2 separate regions of the Homo sapiens genome follow, and region 2 is linked to region 1. A link means that fine-mapping ties the variant in region 1 to the expression of a gene that starts in the linked region. Tissue or cell type: whole blood. Region 1 holds a variant in brackets; the other region holds the start of a gene. All regions are shown on one strand. Distances are from middle to middle.

Region 1 (8,209 bases):
AGACTAAAACAAATGAATAGAAGAAAAGCCACTTGCAGGAAACAGAGACTATAGAGGGAGAAAAAACTAAAAATCAGCTATCAAGACTCTCAAGTTAATAAGAAGAGATGCTGCGTTTATGTAAAAGGAACCGGTTGTAATTTTTAAAAAGGGCTTTCAGGAGAAAGCTCGTTTTTAATCTCCAAGAGTTCAAAGGAACTCTTGGAGATTAAAAATATGTTAGCAGAAATGAAAGAGTCAAAAGGGCTGAAAGATAAAGTTGAGGATATCTCCCAGAAAGTGGAGTGAAGAAAAAGCCAGCGCGATAGAAAGAAAGAGAAAATATAAAACTCAAGGACCAGTCAAGGAGGCCCAATATCCGGATAGATGGAGTTTTACAGAGAAAAAATAGAGGGAAGGGAATCATCACAAAATATTTCAGGAACATTTGCCAGGACTGATGGATATGAGTTGCCAACTGGAAGGGGCCACCACACACAATGGATATAAATAGACCCACACCAAGGCACAGTATTGTAACATTTCAGAATATCAGGGACACAGAGACCCTACAAGCTTCTAGAGAAGAGGTAAAAAAGTTTTATACGGAGGAAGAAGAAACCAAATGGCAACAAACTTTATCAGCAACACTGGGTATTATAAAACAATGGAGTAAGATCTTCAAAGTTCTGAAGGAATATTATTTCCAACCTAGAATTTTATACCAAGCCAAACAATTAAGTGTGAAGGTGGAATAAAGACATTTTTAGACCTACAAGATCTAAAAAAATTTACCCCCATATATACTTTCTCAAGAAGCACCTGAAGGCTGTAATCCACCTAAAAAGAAAGTAAAAATTAAAAAAAAAAAAAAGAAAAGAAAAGATGGATCCAGGAAGCCCAGGATCTAGTCCAAGAGAGAAGCAAAGGGAATCCCATGATAACAGTGAAGGAGATCCAGGATCACACCTGAGCACCAGGCATCAAGAGCAGCCCCTTTAGATTAGAGCATTGAAAAGGCTCTGGAGAGATTTCTTAAGAAGTTGAGGAAGTACCTAATGTTTTCAAATTTATTGAAAGGAGATTTATACAAGTGGAAGAGAGTTTGGGTATCAAATTATTGATAAGTACATAGAAACTAAGGAAATGATTAAAATGATAATAATTCACTACAGGGAACACAAAATTTTATGCAGAAAGGAAAAATCATTATAGCATGCAATATAGTGTAGCTACCTAAACACTGTTAATATTATTACATAGTCACGATTACACAAACATAGAATGAAGATCTAGCTGAAAATATGACGCTAACTATCAGGAAGATGGGAGAATGGGAATGGGAAGTGTGTGTGGTGTGAGTGTTCGCTAGTCTGTGCTGTGTTGTGGGGGTGTGGGGTGTGGAGGGGGTGTGGGGTGAAGGAGGAGAAATCCACATCTTCCTGAGTGGGAAGCCAATAGACAGTGCCTGAAACTGAAAGATCCATAGGCAGCAATGGAACGGAGTGTGTTATTGAGCAATGGAACAGAGCATGTTTTACTGCGGTTATCCCAGGCTCCTCCCCTGGGGTAACCACAGTCACGGATTTGTTATATTTCTCTCCATATCTTTTTTCTCTTCATCTGCATACATAAATCTGTACATATAAATAGCTGTTTTGTTTCACAGATACTCAGGAGGCTAAAGCAGGAGAATCGCTTGAACCTGGGAGGTTGAGGCTGCAGTGAGCTATGATCACGCCACCGCAGTCCAGCCTGGGTGACAGGGTGGGACTTTGTCCCCCAAAATAATAATAATAATAATAATAAAGGCTGAGAATCTCTGCTTTAAAGTATGTGCATGCATGGCTTTGGTAAGATGGAAATGAGGGAAGAGCGGGTGGGGAGACCACTGCAGTGTGTGGCGGGGCCTTGGTAAAGGTAAGCAGGGACTGCAGAAGCAGAGGGGCTTCTAACACGGCTTTGGGGTGGGGAGGTGTCCTGCAGGTAACAATGAAGGTGAGTTTTGAAAGACAGTAAGAAATGAGCTGGATGTGGGGCCAGGTGATTGAAAAGCTGACTATTTTCCAAATCAAATTATATTTAAGTTAGCAGCATTAGAATATATACTTCAGCTCTAGACATGGCATCTCTCTAATTAAAGCACTATTGGATGTGATGTCAAAATTTACGTGGAAAATAGACAGCAAGAACTACAGCAGGCAATTAACAGATATGACAGCCATAAAACATTTTCCTAATTGTGCTACTAATTTGACACCGAGCTTCCCTGCAGCCAGTTCAAGAGGAGAGAGTCCATCAATTATATGGTTCCTGTTATGAGGAAGAAGGAAGTTTAGCAGGCCTTTTTGGAAATAGAGCTTTCCCAGTTAGAATTGAACTCATTCGCCGGCGCTGATGGGTGATATTGTCAACACCCTTGAATTGCAAAGTTAGCACCACTTTGCACAGGCGCCTTCCTAATCTGATGGGCTTTTTTTTTTTTTTTTTTAAACAAAAGAATGAATGAAATTCAAAAGCAACTCAGTACAAGTTGATCCCCAGGCATCTGTGGTGTAGAGCTTTCTAGGGATAACATTAAAAAGTGAAATGAGTCTTTTATAAACCAATCTGGTAATCTATTCTAAAGAGTTGAAAAGGTATCCCTATTCTTTTTTTCTTTTCTTTTCTTTCTTTCTTTCTTTTTTTTTTGGAGACAGAGTCTTGCTCTATTGCCTAGGCTGGAGTGAAATAGCGGGATCTCGGCTCACTGCAACCTCCACCTCCTGGGTTCAACCGATTCTCGTGCCTCAGCTTCCCGAGTAGCTGGGATTACAGGCGCCCACCACCATGCCCAGCTAATTTTTGTATTTTAGTATTGATGAGGTTTCACCATGTTGGCCAGACTGGTCTGCAACTCCTGACCTCAAGTGATCCACCCGCCTCAGCCTCTGAAAGTGCTGGGATTACAGGTGTGAGCCACCATGCCTGGCACTGTTCATTTATTTCTAATGGCAAAATTATAGAAATCACCTAAATGACCAATAATCCAGCAGTTTTCCAAATGATGCAAGAAATAGGTAACTATGTTCTTGTTAGAAATTTAAATATTATAGGCAAAGCTAAAATCCTCCTTGACCACTCAGTCTGTCTTTACTCCCAGGCCCCTCCTCTGGGGTAACCACAGTCACGGATTTGTCATATTTCTCTCCAGATCTTTTTTCTCTTCATCTGCATACATAAGTCTGTATATATAAATAGCTATTTTGTTTCACGGAGAGATTTTACCATCTGCATTGTATCATACTCTACATATTATCTACAACTTGCTGTTCTGCTCAATATTTATATTTAGGTTTTCAAATCTCCCTCTTTTTTTTTTTTTTTTTTTTTTTTGAGACGGAGTCTTGCTCTGTCACTAGGCTAGGGTGCAGTGGTACAATCCCAGCTCTCAACAACCTCCGCCTCCCGGGTTCAAGCGATTCTCCTGTCTCAGCCTCCCAAGTAGCTGGGATTACAGGCATGTACCACCACACCCAGCTAATTTTTGTATTTTTAGTAGACACGGGGTTTCAACATGTTACCCAGGCTGGTCTTGAACTCCTGACCTCAGGTGATCTGCCCGCCTCGGCCTCCCAAAGTGCTAGGATTACAAGCGTGAGCCACTGTGCCCAGCCTCCCTCATTCTTTTTAACAGCTCCGTAATATTCCATTGGTGAATGTCCCCATAGTTTATCTATTCCAGTATAAGGTGGTCTCTAGTTTCCCACAATCACAGTGCTGCAGTTAAACGTGGGCACTCATGGCCATGTCACACTGTTTGGTTCCCAGAAGAGACAAGAGTTCATTCTTTTACTAATTCCCATGTTTCTGTAACAGGGTGTTCCAGGCTCCCACTGGCCGTGTGCCAAAGGGCCTGTTTCCTGTAGCCTCTCCAGCTTTCAGTATTGCCAGACATCTACATTTCCCCCCATCTGAGGAGTGGGATACAGTAACACTTTGTTTTAACTTGCATTTTCTGATTACAAGTGACATTAAGAACTTTCTATATTTTAAATATTTAGTCATTTATATCTCCTTTCCTGTGAGCTGCTCAATCATTCTATATTGCAAACACTTTCTCCCGACGTGTCCCTTGTCCTTTAACCTTATTTGTAGCACCTATCATCAGACAGATATTTTAATCTTTTTTTCACTTTTATAATTTGTGTTTATGCCACATTTTTAATGATTTTCTCTTTGTTTTTATTGTAGTGAAGTCCATTATTTTTCTTTTTAACTGTCTTTTATAGTTATTGTAATGTTGCCTTAATAATACGTTTTCCCAACATTATCCATCCATGGTCTGATATGCCATTTTCTTCCTCAGGAGAGGTTTTCTACCAATTTTTGCCATTTCCCGTGTTGCTGCTGATCCATGCTTC[A/C]TGCCTGTTTTCTGTTTGTGGTTTCAGATAAAATCTACGTGGTTGACTTGAGTAATGAGCGAGCCATGTCACTCACCATCGAGCCACGGCCCGTCAAACAGAGCCGCAAGTTTGTCCCTGGCTGTTTCGTGTGTCTAGAATCTCGGACCTGCAGTAGCAACCTCACCCTGACATCTGGCTCCAAACACAAAATCTCCTTCCTTTGTGATGATCTGACACGTCTGTGGATGAATGTGGAAAAAACCATAAGTACGCCCCTGAATCAGTGCATTTGTCCCTGGCCATGGATAGCTCTTCTCTCCCCGCCTTGCCTTAGTGGGGTTCCCTGGGTAGGTTGTAAATCATATCAAAAAGGCCCATCTGGCCGGGCACGATGGCTCACGCCTGTAATCCCAGCACTTTGGGAGGCCAAGGCTGGTGGATCACTTGAGGTCAGGAGTTCAAGACCAGCCTGGCCAACGTGGTAAAACCCCATCTTTACTAAAAATACAAAAATTAGCTGGGCATGGTGGCAGGCGCCTATAATCTCAGCTGCTCAGAAGGCTGAAGCAGGAGAATGGCCTGAACCTGGGAGGCGGAGGTTGCAGTGAGCCGAGATTGCACCACGCACTCTAGCCTGGGCAACAGAGTAAGACTCAAAAAAAAAAAAAAAACCCCACCCACAGTGCAGGTGAGCAAGGGTGACCAGGAGGCAAGCAGAGTGGGTGTCAACACGTCCCTTTGGACCAGCCTCAGGTAGAGCCTGCAGCCCTCAGAACTGTGTCATACTGCCCCATGTTCAGGCTTATGTCTCTCTGCCCAGCCTTCCAATCTTCCTCTTGTGAGATCCTCTCCTCTCTTGCTCAGACTTCCCCAGCCTCTCCCATCCCCATCCCCCCACACCCCACACCCCCACTTCCACACTCACTGCCCTCTTGTCTTCTCTCACACAAGACTGTGATTCCTGAGGTCAAGAACTTTGACTCGTTCTATTTTTCATCCAGTTAGCCCCTACCGGTGCTGGACATGCACTAGTCACTTGAAAAATGTTTGATTGGCCAGGCACAGTGGCTCATGCCTGTAATCCCAGCACTTTGGGAGGCCGAGGCAGGCAGATAACTTGAGGTCAGGTTATCAGGCAGATAACTTGAGGTTGGGCAGGCTGGTCTGCCAACATGTCTGCCCAACATGGCGAAACCCCATCTCTACTAAAAATACAAAAAATTAGCCGGGCATGGTGTTGGGTGCCTGTAATCCTAGCTACTCGGGAGGCTGAGGCAGGAGAGTCGCCTGAACCCGGGAGGTGGAGGTTGCAGTGAGCCGAGATCGCACCACTTCACTCCAGCCTGGGCAATAGAGTGAGACTCGGTCTCAAAAAAAAAAAATGTTTGATGACTGAAGGCCAGTAAACCAACAGCCACCTCCTTGCTGGGCTACCATGACTTCTGATGTGTGCTCTTAGTTCAAATGCAGGAACTAAGGCCACAAGAGGCAAAGTAGCCTGCCCAAGAACACCCTATTAGGAAGTGGCAGAGCCAGAAGACGAACTAACATCTCCCCAACGCCACTCACAGCTCCAACCACTGCCCAGAACTGCCTCCTGAGCAACACGTCTGGGTGGAGTGAAACCTGTGCCCTGCCCCATGACACTTAGCATCTAAGACACAGATACACAGAAGAAAAACTTAAGCAAAAAAGGAGAGGAAATTTCAACCCTGAGTACTACCCAGAAGTTTGTTTGCCAGCTTAGTAAACAGTAAGAATGTTTACTAAGAGAGCAGAGGGACCGCTAGAAAAGGAACACAGAGGAGCCAGAAGCAGAGGGCAGGGTGGGAGAAGAGAGACCGAAGGGAAACACAGGGCAGCATGCAGACACCCAACCTCAGGCTGACGGGAGAGCTGGGGAGGGTGCACTTCTGGTCTCCTTTGTGCATGGCTAGCATGCCCCACTTCTTCCAGGCTGCACAGACCACCGGTACTGCCAAAGGAAATCCTACTCACTCCAGGTGCCCAGTGACATCCTCCACCTGCCTGTGGAGCTGCATGACTTCTCCTGGAAGCTGCTGGTGCCCAAGGACAGGCTCAGCCTGGTGCTGGTGCCAGCCCAGAAGCTGCAGCAGCATACACACGAGAAGCCCTGCAACACCAGCTTCAGCTACCTCGTGGCCAGTGCCATACCCAGCCAGGACCTGTACTTCGGCTCCTTCTGCCCGGGAGGCTCTATCAAGCAGATCCAGGTGAAGCAGAACATCTCGGTGACCCTTCGCACCTTTGCCCCCAGCTTCCAACAAGAGGCCTCCAGGCAGGGTCTGACGGTGTCCTTTATACCTTATTTCAAAGGTAAGGGGGGTCTCCCCTATCTCCATGCCCCTTTAGTTTAAGCGTTTATTTGATTTTAGTTTTGTGATCACCTTAATTAAGTTGCCAGTTTGGAAAGAAGGGATAGCTCAATATGCTGGTCCTTGCACAAGAAATTTGAAAGATAGTGAGTCCTAATCCTGACTTTACCATTAACCTAGCATGGAAAATTCCTGAGATTAGAAATAAAAAATGTTTCTGACAGTGAGAGGCGATGGTTGGTAGGCAGCAAAAACATTATCAGGTTTGAGTCTTTTTTGGAAGCAGGCAGGACGTAAATGAGAAATAGCCAGATATTCCCCAGTCCCGGATTTTTAAGGTAGTGACATAAAAATCCTTAGGCAGACATTTTTATGACTCTGCTTTTACAATTCAGAATGCAGTGCCGAGAGCACAGAGGGAGGAGCGTTGGGAGGGAGACGAGTCTCTGGAGCCAGAGTCCAGCAGCACGGCTGGGCAGACCCGACCCTCCTGGGAGGCTGGCATGTGGTCTCCATGTTCTGAGGCAGTAAATGAGGTCTAAATGGCTCACAACGTGACTTCTACATGGTTGACTTTAAAAGTCACAGTCACCATTACAAGTTGCTCCAAGAACATTAAGTTAGAGGCCATTTTAAAATTGACCAAGACCTTTGATGTTTATTTCCTACTCTTATTCTCTGAGGTGTGAGTGGGAGGGAGAAGAATCTTTGGTCATAAGATTAAGGTGGGTCCAGGCTGCCTGATATCTCCAAGGTTACCAGAGAAACTCCTTCTGAGGAGTCTTTGCAAATAAGACACATTCTCATCAGTGTGGAATGTGTGGGTTTTATCTCTCCTGAAGGTAAGGAAGGGATTAGTTGACGTGTCAGGAGCTCTTTCAGCTTTGCAGTTCCGGAACTCTTCCCAGAACCTGAAGATATTTTAATCTCTGAAACAGAAATCAGGCTATACCAGCCCCACCCCGGAGAGGGCAATAGATGAATATAGTAGCTACGTTGAGAGCATTTCTGAAGGGAAGCTGAGATAACCACCAGTTTGGGAAACTTGCCTGGTTTTTATTTGCCTGTTTGTTTTGTTTTTTTTCAAAAGTCCTGAGTACCTACTCTGACTGAGACTGATCCAGCACTGACCAATACAGTGGTGCTAGCCACATAGCAATGATTTGAATTTAAATTAATATGAGGCTGGGCACAGTGGCTCATGCCTATAATCCCGGCTCTTTGGGAGGCCAAGGCAGGCAGATCACTTGAGCTCAGGAGTTCAAGAGCAGCCTGGCCAACACGGTGAAACCCCATCTCTACTAAAAATACAAAAAATTAGCCGGTCATGGTGGCTCATGCCTGTAGTCCTAGCTACTCGGGAGGCTGAGGCTGGAGAATTGCTTGAACCTGAGAGGTGGAGGTTGCAGTTTGCAGTGAGCCGAGATCGTGCCACTGCACTCTAGCCTGGGCAACAGAGTGAGACTCCCTCTCAAAAATAACTAATAATAATAAATTAACATGAAACAA
Region 2 (6,764 bases), 49 kb before region 1:
TCCTCCCAAAGTGCTGGGATTACAGGCATGAGCTACTGCACCCAGCCGAAAATTTACCTTTCAATCTCTCATTTCTCTCTAGCACTAGATTATAGTTACCTACGTTGCTTTCCAGTTCAGAAATAACCTTTTAAAATTTACTCCTTCCATTCAGCCATGTTTGTAAAGACAAAACATGTCCATTCTTGGCAATGCTTTGTTCACACTCCACTTGGAGGACCAGGACAGTATGTCAGGACATCTTTACTTCAACTATGTAGTTGGGTTGTCACGCAAAGGATGCTGAAGTGCCTCCCTATTTTCTTCTTTCTCGTTGCTGCTACTTTCTGGAACCACCACCAATGCTTCATATTTGGGAATTAGTGACTCTCATTCCATTTTCAGAAAGCTGGTGTCAACTATCCCAAGAAAGACAGTTAAGCAAACTTTGGAGAGACGAAATAGTAAGGAAATAACTTGTTCCTTAGGCTTAACTTGTCAAGCAATATTTCTGATATTTTGCATTCAATACACTGCCATTCTAGTACTGTTGTGGGTATTACTGTATGTGGGAAACAATGGTGTCATGGATGTTAGGAAAAGATGCTGGGATATATATGCCTGCTTAGAATCAGGAGAAAAGACAAATCTCCTTTCACCCTCCTGGTCAGCATAAATATTTTTAAAGATTGTTTAGATTTTTGTCAAGATTTCTTTCTCTTGATGAATTTGTCCTCGATTCAGTGGGGAGAACCAAGAGCCTCTCTTCGTTTCTCATCCTCTCCCTTCCCTCTAGTTCTCAGTTTTCCCATTTTTCTGCACAAGGACAGAAGTGGACTAGAAGATTACATCTAAGGTCCCGTTTAGCTCACGATACAGGCCCTCCCAGAGGTGGGGGTGTGGGCAGGGTCATGTTCCAAGTTCTGCCTCCCTCGATGGACTGTGGGCTCCCAGAGGGCAGAGCTAGCTCTATTCTCATGATTAAGGACATCGAGAAGGAAGGGGTGACGCTCCTAGGAGATGATTTCCCACCCCTGTCCACAAGGAGGATTGGGGCAGCCTGGAGAGGCTCAGTGCCCGCAAGAATTAAGCAGAAGTTGGGACTGGACTGTAAACTGATGCTGTCGCACATGCTTTGGTTCCTGTCCCAAGCCTCCCAGGTTGCTCCGGGTGACTCTGGCCCAGCTTCTGGCTATCCATGAACACAAGTAGTCCCAGGGAGTCATTCTGGCAGAACCCAGGTCTGCTAGCTAAGAACTCCTGAACCATCCGCAATCTCTGCCTGTGGCCTGGACTTGGTGTATGGCCGGCAGGGTGGAAGGAGAACCCACAGGGCCTCTGAAGACAGGCAGGTGGCACACCTGCGGCTGGGAGGATTTGGAAAAGGAGTCCAGCGCCATTCATTTTTCATTCATTTTCCAGCCCAACGTTTGACCTGAATGCTTCACGCTCACACTGCACACACTACTCCATTTATAATACAACTCGAGAAGGGCACATACTACTCCATCCACAGCTCAGTGAAGGGATGCATACTACTCTACTCACAATTCAACGAAGTGGTGCATCTGCCTCTAATTTACTAGCTACCCTGGGGACCTTGGACACGTTGCGTGTCTGGAAATACTGCAGGTGATGTGTGTGGAGTAGGCTGCAGGCTCACCGTCCTGCAAATACTAGCTGTACCACCACCGGCTTTAAAGTCCAACAGACCTCTGGCCCAAGTCAAGTAGCAGAGGATCCAGGGCTTGGGTGGCCCACAAATAGGATTCTTCTCCAAAACGAGGCGCATAATGGCCTTTGTCTCCTCGACAGAAAAGGGAAGGTAGACTGGCTTCCTCTATGGGCGACCTTCGCGACTCTGGAGAAAAAGACCTCATCATTCTCAGACTTGGGAAGGAAGACTAAGCCCGGAAAGGTGGGGACAAGTCCGCTCCAACGCCGCAATGGGGAGTAGTAGGGACCCAGCAACCCGGTGCCGGGAGCCCTGCACCCTGGGAGGGAGAGGCGGTCGCTGAGGCAGGAAGAGGAGGAGGAGAGAGAGGAGGGACGCACCGGGTCAGCTCGCGATCCTGCTGCGCAGGGCGGGGCTCGGGCCGGTCCGCCCGCGCGCAGGTGAGTGAGCCAGGGCGGAGCGCAGCTGCGCCGGGCTTGGGCGCCTGGGGCCGCCGCTCCCCACCGTCGTTTTCCCCACCGAGGCCGAGGCGTCCCGGAGTCATGGCCGGCCTGAACTGCGGGGTCTCTATCGCACTGCTAGGGGTTCTGCTGCTGGGTGCGGCGCGCCTGCCGCGCGGGGCAGGTGAGTGCCGGGCTTTGGAGGCGGATGGCGTGGAGTGGTGAGCTAGCCAGCCAGCGGACGCCCGGCGGAGATGCGGCCGAGGGACGCAGGGTGCGGAGGGTGCGGAGGGTGCGGAGAGAGGGCGGGGACGGCGTAGTCAAAATGCGCGGGTGGCTCCGGGACCCCCGGACTGTTCGGTTCCTGCGCGCGCCGCGTCGGGCGCGTGGGCCTTGCCCTCCTGGAGTCAACCTTGCCCTCGGCACGTGAGAGTGTCCCCGATCGGGGAGCCTCCCGGTCCGGGAGGATGAGCCCGGTGCTGGCCGAGAAGGCGGGAAAAGGAGCTCCCGGTAGCCGATCCCAGGCGACATGTCCAAGGTGGCGCGCCGTGCGCCCCAGGGTCTTTGCCGGGATTCTTGAAAGCACCCAGGCAGGGTGTGGGAAGAGATCTTTCCTCTCCAGGCTCGCCCTCTACCTCCTCGCCTGGTCCAGAGAGAAGGTGCAAAAAAAGTGCTTTCACGTCCGCATTTCCCACTAGATCCCCTTTTTCCCGTCCGCACGCTGCATTCCCCCTCTCCTAAAGTTGAAGAGCGTTGGTGCAAAAATGAAAGCGCCCGGATTTCTTTTAGGGGGTCCCAGAGAAAGCCGCCAGGCATCTGCGCCACCGCAGAGACTGGACATTCCCGCGCCCCTCGCACTTTTTGGCAGTGGACTTTGAGGGCAGGAGGCTGTTGTTCCGGGGATATGTGTGAATTTCGAGTTGTTTCGGTTGGGGGAAGGGACCAACACGTCCCAGTGACCTGTGCCAGCCAGGAAATGCCCTGTGGGCCCTGGATGTATTAGAACGTAGTAAATAACCTGGTTTCTTCATGTAAGAACTTGATGTGAGGCTAGTACAGGTTTCGCGAGATTAGTACAGGTTTTGTGTTTTTTAAATAGAGCTCTCCAGGAAGCCATGTGGGTTTGATTCCCCTTGCTGCATCTAGGGTGGATTTGTGTTTGGCAGGTGTAAATTAGATAAAGGAATAAAAGGACGCAAGTGAGGTTGAATTTGGGCGTCCCGGTGACTGCCGTCTTTACAAATACAAGACAGGAGCTTCTAAAATATCAATATAAGCTCCAGGAATACTTCCTGGTTCATTCTCCAACATCAGGTGACATATTGCTGCATAGTAGATAGAAAATTTAAAACTTCATTTAAACCATGGCATGGATTTATAAATATATATATAAATTATATATATTAAAGTAGAGACAGGGTTTCACTGTGTTGCCCAGGCTGGTCTCGAGCTCCTGAGCTCAAGTGATCCTCCCACCTGGGCCTCCCAAAGTGCTGGGATTACAGATGTGAGCCACTGTGCCTGGCTGATGAATATTTACTATAATTTCTTAGGACTGAATTTCCAAGATTCCCTTTGAAGAAAAAGAATTAGTTTAAGAATAAAAAGGAAGTGAAAATATGTGTATATGTGTGCTGAGAAAAATGCGTGCCTACCAGTCTTGGAACAGTATTGAAACTCTGGGAATTATCTGAGATGTTTTTGGCTTTCTGTGACAACAGTGGGGAACTCTTCCAGTCAGAACAGGGTGTTAATCAAGGCATTGCTAATAATGAGAGCCTCTGTTCCTGGTCTCATTTCTCCCTGTGATCTGGGAAGGCTGCCATTTTGGTCCAGTAACTCCAATGGAGTCCCTTCCAGGAAGTCCTTGACTGGCTGAGCCCTGTCTCATGGTTCAATACATAAATACGTAGAAACCTAGGAACTTTCCCTTTCGCTTTCTTAAGTTCCTCCCTATGGTCTCAGGAACTGGCCCTTTGAGGGTACATCAGGCTGAACTGAGAGCTTTTGTGGTTGGAGTAGTTGCCTGTAGTCTTGAGGATCTAAGTGGCAAAGGCCTTTGAGAAATTCCTGGAGACTGTCCTGAAAGGATACAGAAAGCCAGAGCCCTGGCACAGTGGATTTGTTTTATAAATCCATGAAGTCTCTTAACAAAGAAAGACTCAGCAGAGTAAAAATGAATTTGGTGTCACTGCAGAGATGAAAAGTAAAGGAAAGTTTGTGTCTTGGTGTCGTGTGTTTGTGTGACTTTGGTATCCCCACCAACTCCCCCATTTCCAAGAGTGAAACACTGGTTACATTGGGATCATAGCCTTTTGAAAACCTCCATTTGGTTGCTTTCTAAGAACCACTCAGATACCAGAGTCTGGGTCAGTGACCCCAATCTTGCCACCATTGTCTCTTGCCAAAAATGTGAGCAGACAGATCAAATGATATATTCACACTCCCTGGGTGAGTGTGGGTGTTCATTCTGTTTCCGATTCAAATGAGGAGCTACTGGCTGTTGTCTGGAATGTGTAACTGGTAGCGCTGATGAGTCTCCCCCATCTCCTCCCCCACATCCCCACAGATTTGCATGACTTGGAGTCAGACCTGTTAGCCCTAGGGCTCACCTCAGATGCTGCCATTTCATCTATGATGGTTGCACGCCTTGCATGTGCACACACACACTCTTCTGGGTGTTCTCCCTGGCTATCAATATGGGGGAAGGAAGTTAATAATTAAGATGTTTTAAGTAGCATATAGTTATTGTAGAAAAAGTGGCAATAAATATAACCAAAATGGAAAAAAATTATCTATAAGCAAACTGCCTTATTCACTTTGATGCAGTCTTCTTAATGTGTATGTATGCACGCTCATGTGCACAAACCAAAAATGGGATCATCCCATTGTATGGCTTTAACCAGTCCCCAGTTGTTGGACATTTAAGTTGCTTCCAGTTTTTCTTATTAAAAATAGAACACGTCCAACAATAGCCAGCTGCTTGTATCAATTTTAATAGGTCTATTCAGTGAAAAGGCACTTGAAATTACATAGCACAGACTAGAAAATGACATGAAAGGATGAACCATTATCCTCATGTTGCCAAGGTTATAAAATGGTATCAACTGGATTATCCCATTTTGATGTATCTAAGAATGTGTTCTTCAGCTGTGTTGTTCTGCACACTCTTTTTTTAAATTTTTGAGACAGAGTTTCACTCTTATTGCCCAAGCTGGAGTGCAATGGCGCGATCTCGGCTCACTGCAACCTCCGTCTCCCAGGTTCAAGCTATTCTCCTACCTCAGCCTCCTGAGTAGCTGGGATTACAGGTGTGCACCACCACACCCAGCTAATTTTTTGTATTTTTAGTAGAAACGGGGTTTCACCATATTAGCCAGGCTCGTCTCAAACTCCTGACCTCAGGTGATCTGCCCGCCTCGGCCTCCTGAAGTGCTGGGATTACAGGCGTGAGCCACCGCGCCCATGTTCTGAACATTCTTAACTATTTTGTCCAGCTACAGTTCTGGAAGCAGAGTTGCTGGGATGAAGAGTAGAGAGGCTCTTAGGGCTTTGGACGCGCATTTCCACGTTCTGGAAGCAGAGTTGCTGGGATGAAGAGTAGAGAGGTTCTTAGGTCTTTGCACGCGTATTTCCGTGTTCTGGAAGCAGAGTTGCTGGGATGAAGAGTAGAGAGGCTCTTAGGGCTTTAGTTGCGTATTTCCATGTTCTGGAAGCAGAATTGCTGGGATGAAGAGTAGAGAGGTTCTTAGGGCTTTGGATGCGTCTTTCCATGTCACCTGTGGAGAGCCTGTCCTGGTGTGCTTTCCAGCCATCAGTGTGTTAGTGCTTGTTTCTCACATTCTCCCAGGCTCTCCTCACTGTTGTTTCACCAGCATCTATGGAAGAAGCATTTTCCTCCCTCCAATTTGGCAAATAGAATCTGGACAGTGTTGCTGGGCAGACTCAAGAGTCTTAGAAGCACCACCCCAGCTGGATGGTACTAATAGCTCACCAGTGCTTTTTTGCCAAAAGAAAACAGAACTGGGTCCCTTGGCTTATAACACAAGCCTCACCTGCGTTTTTGCCTAGCGGTGCTGACCTGGGTTTGGATGGGATAGGATGAGGTGGGGAGTGGGTAGGGAGAGGAGTCTGCTGGTCAGAAAGACCCCTGATTGAGGTCAGGGTGGGTGGGACAGTGGGAGATGATAAGACCACTGATGTGGGGGACCAGTGGCTAGGGTTCTCTGCCTTGGTGGTTAAGAAAAGTTTATACCGAGCCAGGCGCAGTGGCTCACGCCTGTAATCCCAACACTTTGGGATGCTGAGGGGGGCAGATCACATGAGGTTAGGAGTTCAAGACCAGCCCGGCCAACATGGCAAAACACCGTCTGTACTAAAAAATACAAAAATTAGCCAAACATGGTGGTACACACCTGTAATCCCAGCTACGCAGGATGCTGAGGCTTGAGAATCGCTTGAACCCGGGGGGCAGAGGTTGGAGTAAGCCTAGATCATGACACTGCACTCCAGCCTAAGTGACAGAACAAGACTTTGTCTCAAAAAAAAAAGAAAAGTTTATACCCCTTAATTATCATTCTAAATTATAAAAATTATGCCATAATCAAATTATTTCAAACCACTTCCCACAACCTTGTAATTTTCATCTCCCGGGCAGCTGGCGCATTCTA

The links. PIP is the estimated chance that this variant, and not a neighbour inherited with it, causes the effect.
Region 2: it holds the start of CDCP1, and the variant in region 1 is fine-mapped to the expression of CDCP1 in whole blood (TOPMed, PIP above 0.99). The same link has a PIP of 0.9 or more in blood mononuclear cells.

The regions. Positions count from the first base shown.
Region 1 is chr3:45,091,769-45,099,977 of GRCh38, reverse strand. It overlaps CDCP1 (CUB domain containing protein 1), which reads left to right. Exons shown (of 9, transcript NM_022842.5): 5 at 4,410-4,631; 6 at 6,321-6,701. Among named protein-coding and RNA genes, the nearest start is that of CDCP1, 51 kb to the left of the region's middle. The variant A/C (reference allele first, on the strand shown) is at 4,383.
Region 2 is chr3:45,141,720-45,148,483 of GRCh38, reverse strand. CDCP1 (CUB domain containing protein 1) reads left to right here and starts at 2,106. Exons shown (of 9, transcript NM_022842.5): 1 at 2,106-2,278. The coding sequence starts at 2,197.